Homo sapiens: one gene and its partners. The protein of the gene in region 3 purifies or fractionates together with the protein of the main gene of each other region. This does not show direct contact. Each region holds a gene or a part of one and is shown on either strand. Other genes may lie near its edges.

Evidence for each region.
Region 1: the proteins of CSGALNACT1 (region 3) and ATP2B3 purify together in Homo sapiens (affinity purification with mass spectrometry; 3 studies listed by BioGRID and IntAct, with this or other methods). This does not show direct contact.
Region 2: the proteins of CSGALNACT1 (region 3) and TMX4 purify together in Homo sapiens (affinity purification with mass spectrometry; 3 studies listed by BioGRID and IntAct, with this or other methods). This does not show direct contact.

What each region holds. Positions count from the first base shown.
Region 1 is NC_000023.11:153,516,095-153,519,842, forward strand, and holds the start of ATP2B3 (plasma membrane calcium-transporting ATPase 3), read left to right. Parts: upstream 1-1,547; 5' UTR 1,548-1,781; intron 1,782-2,337; 5' UTR 2,338-2,457; intron 2,458-3,748. UniProt on the Homo sapiens protein: ATP-driven Ca(2+) ion pump involved in the maintenance of basal intracellular Ca(2+) levels at the presynaptic terminals. Uses ATP as an energy source to transport cytosolic Ca(2+) ions across the plasma membrane to the extracellular compartment.
Region 2 is NC_000020.11:8,017,619-8,021,366, reverse strand, and holds the start of TMX4 (thioredoxin-related transmembrane protein 4 precursor), read left to right. Parts: upstream 1-1,605; 5' UTR 1,606-1,753; coding exon 1,754-1,929; intron 1,930-3,748.
Region 3 is NC_000008.11:19,407,698-19,411,345, forward strand, and holds part of CSGALNACT1 (chondroitin sulfate N-acetylgalactosaminyltransferase 1), read right to left. Parts: intron 1,728-3,648; exon of another isoform or gene 1,541-1,727; intron 998-1,540; coding exon 916-997; exon of another isoform or gene 911-915; intron 1-910. UniProt on the Homo sapiens protein: Transfers 1,4-N-acetylgalactosamine (GalNAc) from UDP-GalNAc to the non-reducing end of glucuronic acid (GlcUA). Required for addition of the first GalNAc to the core tetrasaccharide linker and for elongation of chondroitin chains.

The DNA of each region.
Region 1 (3,748 bases), on a different chromosome or scaffold from region 3:
GTGTGTATGTATGTGCCCATGTGTGTGCTCACTGGGTAAGTGTGTGAGTTGTGTAGGTGTGAGAGCATGTAAATATGTGTGAACCATTGTGTAACTGTGTGGGCCACCGAGCTTGTGTGGGTGAGGGTGAGTGAGCACATATGACTGTGAGGATGTGTCTGCGTGAGATTGTGAGTGTGTGCATGAGTGTGTGAGTGTGTGTTTGTGTAAGTAGGTGAGTGAGCATGAGTTCATGCATATGAGCAGGTGTGAGTATGTGTGCGTGCATGTGAGTGGGTGTGAGTAAGCATGTGTGAGCGCACACATGACCAGGTGTATGAGTGTGTGTGTGCGTGCGTGCGCGAACCTCAGCTTTCCACGGCACCAGCTGCTTCCTGTGGAAGGGAGGGGCAGTCTGTGGGGGTTGTGACGGTTCCCTGGTCTCAGGGGCAGCAGAAGCTTTCTGTCCTTTTGGTCCCTAGCACAGTGGTGCCTCCTCAAAGAGGCCTTCCCTGAGCCGCCAGCAGCCTCTTTCATGGCTCCCCATCAATGGGGTTCCATAGCTCCGACCCCAGCGGCGTGAGCACATTTGCCATCCGACGGCCACTCCCTGCTTTGTGGTCCCTGCTGTGTCCCCAGTATTCAGCTCTGGTCTGGCACACAGCATGTCCAGGGCCCTCTTTGTCCAAGGCAAGAAAGAATTTGAGGCTGCGTCCAGGCCTCTTGCACCTGCCTCAGGCTCCCGCCCAGAGCCTCTACCTGTGCCCCAGCGAGCATTCTCTGCTCGCTGCTCAGAATGCTCGCAAAGGCCGGCCCTGGGGTCAGAGGCCTCCACAGCCCCTGGAGCTGGGAAGCCTGGGGGTCCACCGGCAGGCACGGGGGTCTCTTTCCAGGTAGGTGGGAACGCGTGCTTGTGGGTGTGGACAGGTGTCTGCACTGGGGTTTGTCTGTGTGTCTGTCTCCACTCACACCGGGGATGTATGTGCCCCTGCGTGTCTGTCTCTGGTGCCCACCTGTGTGCAGTCTCTGTGTTCTGCCTAACGGTGGTGTTCCCGTGATAACCGACGGTGAGGATCTCCGGTAAGCGCCGCTTCCTCTGGGAAGACGCATTTGGACGCCCGTACTCTCAACAGGTAATGGAGTTTGCAGGAGACCACCAATGCCTTGGAGTCCACTGAGGCAAGACCCAAGGACCCCACGCTACACATCAGCCACCCGGCTCTGTGCCCCATTTTACTGTTGGGGAGACGCACCTAGAGGGCAGGGTCTGGAGAGGTAGTGGCAGCCTCAGTCGCAAGCTCAGGGTGCTCTCTCTGCACTCACAGGTGCCATGGTCCCCCAGTTTCCATCCCCACCCACCCCCACTCGGCCAGTGCCCTTTGGGGGCAATGCCAGGCCAGGAAGGGCGGGCACCCTCGCGCGTCCTGGGGACAGAAGGGCGCGCACCGGGCGCGTAGCTCCTGAGCCCCGAGGCCCCTGCGCCGCGCACCGCCCCCCGCGCCCGCTCCCTCCTCCCTCCCTCCTCCTCACCCAGCTCCCTCCCCTCCCCCCTCCCTCCCTCCGCGCTCAGAGCTGCGGTTGGAGCCGAGCGCGCCGCGTCGCCCGCCGCCGGTGCAGAGCGTGGGGAGCACTCGGCCGCAGCCCTCGCCCGCCGCAGAGGGTCGCGTCCCGCGCCGCCGGCCAGGCCGCCCCGTGCCCAGGCCTTTCCATCCTTGGAGCGGATCGTTGCCCGCCTGACGCCCGCCCGCAGCGACAGCGCCCGCCGGAGCCGAGGCCGCGGCGGCGGCCGTGCCCATGCCCGGGTAAGTGGTGCTCTGGGCGCGCGGGCGCCGCCGGGGTGGGCGCGGGCGCGGCGCGGGCACAAGGCGCGGGTGGGGATGGGAGGATGACCCGGCAGGTGGTGCGGCGGCAGGTAGGGGGACACGGGTCCCCGCCCGAGGCACCTGAGCCCCGCGCCGGGCCTGCGTGTCCTTGCGGCACTGCGGCCGCGCGTCACCCCGGGGCCCCAGGCCGGCGGGCAGCGCCCCGCACCCTGCACCCTGCGCCCCGCATCGCGCGCGCACGCGCATCCGTGTCTGAGGAACAAGGCCCTTGGGGGCTGCGGGCCGGGGCTCAGGGTGGGCGCAGCCGGGGGCGCGGGATCTGGGCCGGGAGCCCGCCAGTGCGCACGCACCTTCCCGGAGCCTCGGGCACCCCCTCCCCCCCGCGCCCTCACACTGTATCATCCTTCCCCTCTCGCCTTCCCGCACCGTTCCCCGCACGCCCACGCGGCTGCCCAGCAGACCCCACCGCGGTCATGGGCAGTGCCCACGAGAAGCCGCCCGGGGCCGCACTTAGGTAACTTCTCCATCCCTCCAGGAACGGCTGTCTCCCCCTCCTCGCCTGTGTGACCTTGGCCAGCCAGCTTTTCCTGTGGCCGCCTGCGTTTTCTCACGGGTGAAAGCTCTGGCTTTAAGATTCTGGAATTTGGAATGGCAGGTGCGGCATCTCCCAGAGCCTGAGACGATGGGCTTCTCTCTCTGTGACCTGGTGTCCTTCCTTCTGCTGGCCCTTCTGGGGGTTGGTGGCTCAGCCAGCCGGCTGAGGAGGGGTGGGAGGCAGGGCAGGGGCATGGCGCCGGGGCAGGTCAGGACTGGAGGGAGTCTTGGAGAGCCCGCGGTGAGGGCTCCATGAGGGTTTAGGAGAGACTGTGGAAATGCTCCTTCGCTCACTCAAGGGGCAGGGAAGGGACCAGAATTCCTCAACGAGATGCTTGCCATTTCCTGGCGAGGTCATATAACTTTCAAAGATGAAGCCCAGGGCCTCCGACCTCAAAGGAGTCCCTGCCTGCTAAAGGATCAAGTCCAGCCTGTCCCCAACTGGCCCCCATCCTGAATTCCACTGGCACCCTAAACGTCAGCCGACTTCCCCTGGCTGACTTGGGCACCAGTCTGGCAGGCACCCCCTGCACCTCCTCCCCTCCTTTGCCCACTAGGATCTGTGCCCTCACCCCCTGCCATTGCCCCTCACTAGTCAGTGACCATCTTAAGGCAAGGACTGGCTCTTCATTTGCACAGGCCTGGCACAGAGTGGGCACCTGGTTTCTGCATGGCATATTCATGACCTTGACCTCACTGAATCTGCAGACTCACTGAACAGGAGAGGCAAGGCCTGGATTTTTGTCCCCATTTTTCAGATGGGATCATTGAGGCCCCCAAGAGGAGAAGGGATTCAGCCCTGAATTGAGGCCCCTTCCTTCATGAGCAGATGGCTAGGGACATTCCTATGAACCTGGTGGGGCAGGGAGGCGGGGAGAGGTTATCGTAATAATCAAAGACCAGCCCCACTTCCTGAGCTCCATCTGAGTCTCACCTCAACCACACGAGTGAATGGCTGTTTTCATCCCCAACCCCCACCCCCCGCCGCCACTTTTCACAGATGAGGAAACCGAAGCCATGTGGCTCATTAAAGGGGCACTGGGATGCCGAGGAGAGGGCTGGGGATGCCTGGGCCCCTGTGGGACACAGCTGAGACCCAGCAGAGGGTCCCAGGGTGAGGTCAGCCCCTCAAGTCTGCGCCATCGGAACGGGCTGGGAACTTGTGGTCCCCGGCCATTGATTGTCACTGCTGCAGGCCCCGAGGCGGGGGACAGCCAAGGACACAGCCAGTCTCCATCAGCTCCACCTGGGCCGTGCCCTGCACGGCCAGGTGGTTTGAGTGCAGGAGTAGGCATGCTCTCACACAGCAGGGGGTAACGGGCAGATGGAAGTGGGGCGGGCGTGGGAGGGGG
Region 2 (3,748 bases), on a different chromosome or scaffold from region 3:
TTTTAAGAGAACTTTGGTGTGGACTAGTTTTAGCCCCAAATCACATGGCTAGGAAGTGTCAGGGCTAAGATGCCAATCATGGTCTGACAGCAACAGGTCCCTTACCCTGGTCTGTGACTCCTTACGGCAAGGTCAGTCCCATACTTCCTTGCTACTTTCTTCCTACCATCCTTAGTCTGAAGGCTAAGACTTCAGTTTTTGTTAAAGATAGGAAATGCTTTGGTAATGGCTGTCTTTCATGCTGAAGATGCTCTCTCTCCTTTTAGCTTTTCATTTTGTAAATTTTCCAACATATGCATGAGTAGGTAAAGTAGCAAAATGAACTTAGCTTCAACACTGACTGATGTTGCACCACTTTTCTTTCACCTATCTTCTTTCCATTCCCTACATTTTATTTCTGGAGCATTGTAAAACAAATTCTACACATCATTCTATCATGAAAGTGATAAAATGACAGAATTCCTGTTTATGAGTCACTTCTTTTTACAAGCACAGTAAAATGTTTTCCATTGAGTTTATGGAATTGATATGTATGTACTTAATAACAGTGAGTCTTAGTAGCATTCATTGCAAAGACATTTTCTTAAATTTCAATAGTTTGTAAACCCTTGAGTGTTTTATTTTAATGATAAGGGCTAGGTCCACATAGTTTTTAGCTAATACTAATTAATGCATAATGCAGGCCAGATCTTCTCTTCAGGCAAAATTAACTTCCCTCTCCTATAAGTATTGATTGAAATTTGCTCTCATGTGCCCTGAAGTACTTTTAGTCTTATTGCTGTCTTTGTTTTAAGCCGAGGGCAGAAACCACATCCTTTTCATGGTCTATTAACCACATTACCGAGGTTCATGGTTTGCACAACTAGTAAACACATACAAAGCACCCTTTGAGAAAGCTTCCTCATCCTTTAATTGTAATCCAGTCTTATATATTAACGGTGTGGTGGTCCCAAGGTACAGATTCATCTAATGTGACCTGGAAAGAAATTTGGAAATCACTTAAGGCTACCCTCATTTTAGATCTGACAAAACTGTAGTCAAGAGAAATGTGAGGTCCATTTTACTGCAGGTGGCAATAGTCTTAATTGACTCATTTTATCGGCTAGTACCCATGTTTTTAAGAGTTTCTATGAAATTAACATTTTTTGTAAAAAAAATGCAATTGCATAGGCTAGTTTCATCAATATCCTAAATTAGTGATGCTTCAATATACACATGCAGAGTACTTAAATTTTCCTCTCTCTTCAGCAGGAGATACTCACCACGTCCCTCCATTTTTCATTAAACATACGTGTACCTTGCAGCCCGTTGCTTTTATATTTGCTATCATTGAAGAGGGGATGGATTTTAAAATTACTGGCCATGTTTCCCTTTAGAGAAGCCCACACGCGCCAACCCTGCCCTTATTGGAGCCTGGGCAGCAGCGGTGCATGTTCTAACTTAGGCAACGTTGGGTCATCTGTTTATTGTCAGCTTGGCGGTCAGGAAGAAAGGGCGGTGGTTGCTGAGGTAACCGACACCCCGGGCAACGGCAAGTGGAGGCGGGAGGGGGCGTGGCCTCGACGGGCAAGCGGCGATAAGAGGTGGCGTCCTCCGCGGCATTGCGAGCACCGCCAGTCTGCGCCGCTAGGCGTAGGCGGGGTGGCCCTTGCGTCTCCCGCTTCCTTGAAAAACCCGGCGGGCGAGCGAGGCTGCGGGCCGGCCGCTGCCCTTCCCCACACTCCCCGCCGAGAAGCCTCGCTCGGCGCCCAACATGGCGGGTGGGCGCTGCGGCCCGCAGCTAACGGCGCTCCTGGCCGCCTGGATCGCGGCTGTGGCGGCGACGGCAGGCCCCGAGGAGGCCGCGCTGCCGCCGGAGCAGAGCCGGGTCCAGCCCATGACCGCCTCCAACTGGACGCTGGTGATGGAGGGCGAGTGGATGCTGAAATTGTGAGTGTGCCCGCCCGCCCCGGACGCCGCAGTGTCCTCGCGGGCGTCACCCTCCCAAGCCCGCGCGGCCCGGTGGCGATCCCGCATTGCCGCTTGGGCTCAACCTAAAACCCCGGACCAGGCTTGCCAACAACCTGCGGCGCCGGTGCCGGGCCGCTTGCGATCCTGCACTGCCGCTGGGCTCGACCTGGGGTCCGCGGACCCGCCTTACCAACGACCTGCGGCTGTGGGGCCCGGCCGCTCGCGCCGCGCATGCGCGCCGAGCCCTCGCGGTGACAGCCGAGGGTGCAGCGCGTCCCCTTGCTTTGGGGGACAGTGTTTTCGGGGTGGAGTGGGCAGCTTCCCATAGGGAGGAGAAGGGAAGGAAGAAAATCTGCAAGCAAACCGTGTGCTTTTAGATACAGATATGTATTGGAAGAGAAAGGACATTCAGTGACATCCACGTGCAGTATGAATACGTAGCACAGGCTAAGCAAGTTACCTGTTGAAGAAATTGCAGCACGGTGAAGGCAGGCCATTTGTGTCGTAGTCTTCCGTTTGAAGACCTGGAGATGTCATTGTGAGAATAAAACATAAATATGGATGCCTTTTAAATTTTACAGTATGATTTCAAATAAATGTTGATACTTATTATAACTTGTAAAGGTAGGACTTTCTGAGTAATATTAATAATTGTGCCATAAAGAAAAGAAGATACGCATTGCCCCTTTTAACAATAGAAAGCAAATGGTGGATAGTGCCTTTTCTTTAAGGAGATGGGAAACTACAGTTTTGAGTTAGGAGAAAGAAAGGGATTTGTTGATTATAGTTTAACCTTATAATAGGAAGTGACCATTTGAAAGAGGCTTGCAGTGGATGGTGGGCAGATGTCTGAGCGGGCTTGAGAGACCATCATGGTGGGCTTGCAGACTCTCTCTCTCTCTCTCTCTCTCTCTCTCTCTCTCTCTCTCTCTCTCCCCCTCCCTCCCTCCCTCCCTCCCTCCCTCCCCCTCTCTCTCTCTCTCCTCTCTCTCTTCTCTCTCTCTCTCTCTCCCTCCCTCCCTCCCTCTCTCTCTCTCTCCTCTCTCTCCTCTCTCTCTCTCTCTCTCCCTCCTCTCTCTCTCTCTCTCTCTCTGTCTCTCTCTCCCCTCCCACAACTCCTTTCCACCCTACCTGCCCCCCTCCCGCCCCCACCCCCCAAACATAAAATCTTTCAGGAAATTGCCACATCTCTTTAGCCTGTGGTTTCTGGCAATCTGTATACTACTATTGAATCTTTGTTTTACGTTGAGGACACAGACAGAAAATTGGATCTTTCCTTTATCCAAGACCAAGTTTTGATTCTTTCAATTTAAATTGCAAGCAGGTGCCTATGGAGTGAAAACCTCAGTGTGAGATCAGAGCCAAAATTTATGTCACACAGCAGATTACATTGCTCGAAGAACATAAGGCATATCACCCCTTCAAATGTGCATTTACCTCTTAGTCACAAAGAAGGGGATATTTTAGACCTCCAAATGAAATACCCTTGGTATCATAATAAATCAATGAAATTATTAAAGGGAACTGTAGACATGAATTATTAAAATATTCCACTTAACTATTTTTGGAAGAAGGTGAGGGGGTCATATTCTATTTGAGAAACTTTTAAAATAAGTGGAGCTGTGTTAAGACTTCCATGTTTGTAATAATTTTAAGAGTTTGGGATAAACTGCATTTTGTCAGCCAATACTACAGAAAGTTCTCTTTTCAGTAGGTGCTTACAAAATGGACTTTTTCCTAGATGTCATCTTTCAGGGTAAAACTGAGTTTGCATATGTATGTAAGAAAAGTTAAAACA
Region 3 (3,648 bases):
TAGAAAACCACAGGCGTGCGCATGTGCATATTTGTGTATGAATTGTGTGTGCATGTGGACATTTGTGTATATGAATTGTGTGCACATGTGGACATTTGTGTATATGAATTGTGTGCGCATGTGGACATTTGTGTATATGAATTGTGTGCGCATGTGGGCATTTGTGTATATGAATTGTGTGTGCATGTGGACATTTGTGTATATGAATTGTGTGTGTGTGTGTGTGTGTGTGTGTGTGTGTGTGTGTGTGTGTATTGGCAGCAACTGCACATTTAGTCAGAGCTTAAAGTGACATTTGGAATTTTGAAGGTTAGCAGAGAGAAATGTGGGTCTTTTTGAATATGTGCTTCCTCCCAGTTCCCCTATTTCCCTCATACCCTTACTGGGAGGCTTAGGATGTTCTACAGGAGAGGGCAGAGCAGCCAGGACCCCGCTGGGAGGAGGCACTGGAAGACTTGCTGCAAAGCTGCCTGGATGCAATAAGCAGCCTTTAATCTCAGATTGTGTGTCTTATTTGGAATGACTGAGAGGTGCTGGTGGAGATCATAGGGGCTAAAATGCCACCTACTACCAGGCCCCCTCTTGGTCCAGCCCTGAGTCTATGACATCAGGAACAGCATTTGATTTTCTTTTTGGAGTGATTCTCTTTAGGAGAATCGCTATGTTGTCCAAGTTGGTCTTGAACTCCTGGCCTCAAGTGATCCCCCCTCCTCTAACCTCCCAAAGCACTGGGATTACAGGTGTGAGCCACCGCACCTAGTCTGGAATAGCTTTTTTTTTTTTTTTTTTTTTTTTTTTTTGAAGGCAATGGTACCACCTTCCCAACCAGACTCCTTGGAAACCCTACTTGATTCCTTCAAGGCCTACATGGGCCCGTGGCCTCTGGGTGGCAGTAGAGATGCAGATTTGTCCTACCTATATTGATGAAGTCTGACCGATACTGACACGTCATCCCAAATCCAAAGTCTCTCCAAAATCCAGTTTCCTTCTTTATGACCTGCAAGAAAAGCACTGTCATTTGAGGGGAAAGTTTAGGGTGGACAAAAATAGAGTGTTCACAAACTCCTGTGAGCCACCGTGGAGTGTGGAGCCCATCCCATCACTGATAAACAGCCTCCACTGGTGCAGGAAACGCAGATGGATTTGAGTCCTTGCAGACAGTCAGGAATACAGTACACACACCAGTCCCAAAACAAGGTCTTGTGATTTTTGGCACCTCTGGCTGGAATGTTTCTAGGGCATAGATATGAAAACACACACACACACACACACACACACACAATCAAAAACAAAAACCGGGAGAGCCAGTCTTTGAGCAGTGCCGTGGAAAAGCCACCTACGTGCCTGGCCCCACACCAGTGCCAGCGAGAATCGGAGGCTTGGGCCCCTTACACAAGCCTGGGCAGCGAGCCAGCAAAGGGCTCAGGAAGTTGAGAAAAGGGATAGAGAACAACTCAGAATTCAGCTGCCCTGGCACGGTCCACTCACAGGACTCCCTTGGGGAATAAAAAGAAATATCTGAGAGACTTCAGTATGTTACCAGCTCTCCAACTCTGTTAACTCTCGCTTGCTGAGGAAAAGGGCACTAGAAGTCCAGCTTCTGAAGAAAGACTCTGTCCATTCATCTTCACGCTATTTTAAAACCAAACTGCTCCCAAAAGCATCTACCGTGGTGCCAGCCTGCAGGGCTGCGGAGAGGCCATCCAGACACTGCCCAGTCTCTTACTCTGCAAGTAAATTTCCAATATATTTGCTGAAACAGCAAGGCTTTTCAAAACTGCATGTGTACATATATATATATATAGAGAGAGAGAGAGAGAGAGAAACACACACACAAACACATATACACAAACACGTATTCAGCTGAGAGAACTCTGGGAACAGTTTTGAGATCTTAGTTATTTTTCATAATTCATTCTTGCAGTTAACATAGGTGCTTAGGTGAAAGGACACCCCCACATCCTGTCCTCTGGGGAAAGGTAGAGAGGGCAGCAGCAGGTTCCTCTTTCCCCACTTGGATTTGTATAGATTTTGTTGGGGACATCTGGTTCTGTTCATCGTTAATTAGAAACGGTACATGAGAGGGGAGAAGCATCAGAGTCTTGGCCCAATGTGACCACTGGCTGGCTTTTTCACTTCAGGCAGCCTCCTTCACTTCTTCATGCATCTATTTTTTTTTCCTTATAAAACAAGGGGGTTAAATTCACTCATCCCTTAGGTGTCTTTCAGCTTTCACATCCAAGTGTTTATCACATCTTCCCCCTTCCTGAAGTTTCACCACAGGCTAATTATATTTGATAAATGGCTTGCAGAAGGGCTGATGAATCTTAAATGTTCTTTAACTCTGTAACATATGAAACTGTCTTACTTTCACTACAATCTACAGGTAGATGTCACTTCCACCATGTCACTTACATTCCACAGGGAATGGGGACCTGCTGCCACCCTCTCCTGCAAGCATCAGGACTGCTCAAGGAAAGTAGAACCAAGAGAGTTTCTGTTGCTTAAAGTTGTCCCCAGCAAGTATTCTCAAGTTCTACTTCAGAGTACGGGACCGTTATACAGTATCTCCCAAATGACAAGTCAATTTCATTAGTATCAACTGGAAAGATTTTGTAAGGCGGCAAAGTCTGGAAAAGTCTCCACGGAGTCATTTTTTAAAATATGGACTTTGTTCCATCCCCGCCTTACCAGGTACATGGTTTCCATTGCAGCGAATAGACTAATATTCCTTCTGCTGGCAACCTAGACAAGTTCCCTAAGCTTATGGGTAAAAATGGAGTCAAAGAGAAGTGCCAGTATCCAATCTTCAAATATTTCGCTGAGGATCACATGGAATTTAAAAAGGAACGCTCCGAACAGGAAAAACAATTGGCCAAGCCTTGGGAAGGAAGACAAGAGGGAGGCATCCAGAGACTCTGGGCTGCACTGATGTAGGGCCTTTCGAGGTTGAACAAGGTGAAGGGGGACCCTCACATGGGAACAGCGTGATGGAGGCAGTCTGGCTTATGAGCTGGGGAGTGAGTTGTGTAAACATTTATTAAAGTCAGTTTGGAAGTTGGCAAGCCACAAAAAGCCACTATCTGAAGAGCTTGTTGAAATTTAGCCCTTTGTGGAAACTCATCTGGTCATGCCCACAGCATGTAATTTCAGGGCAAGACGGAGTTCCCTCAGTCGAGGTTCCACCACCCACAGCTGTGCTGGGTCGCTAACTGGAAGGACGCGCTCAATAGCAGTCTGGCGGGAGTGTGTGCCCTCAAGCACACATCCGATTATATCACGTTCCCATGTGAAGCCCTGCAAGGGTTCCCTAATCGTCAGCCATCTCATTTCTTCTTATCCTTCTGCCCTATATAAGGCCCATTTTCTCCCTCTTGGATTCTCCATGCTCACAGGTCTCCAAGGCCAGATACTTGCAGTCCTTCCTGCCTGGGTCACCCTTTCCCCACACACCACTAAGCTGTGCTCCAATGTCACTATTCAGAGTGGTCGTCCTGACCCTCCTGGCCCATGTTATGCACCTGCCACCCTAATGCCACTTGCTGCACTGGACCCCTGGTTTATTTTCTCTGTAACAATTCTGGCTTCTGAAATGATCCCGTTGATGCATCTGCTTCTCTGTTTGCTGACTGTCTTCAGTCACTAGCC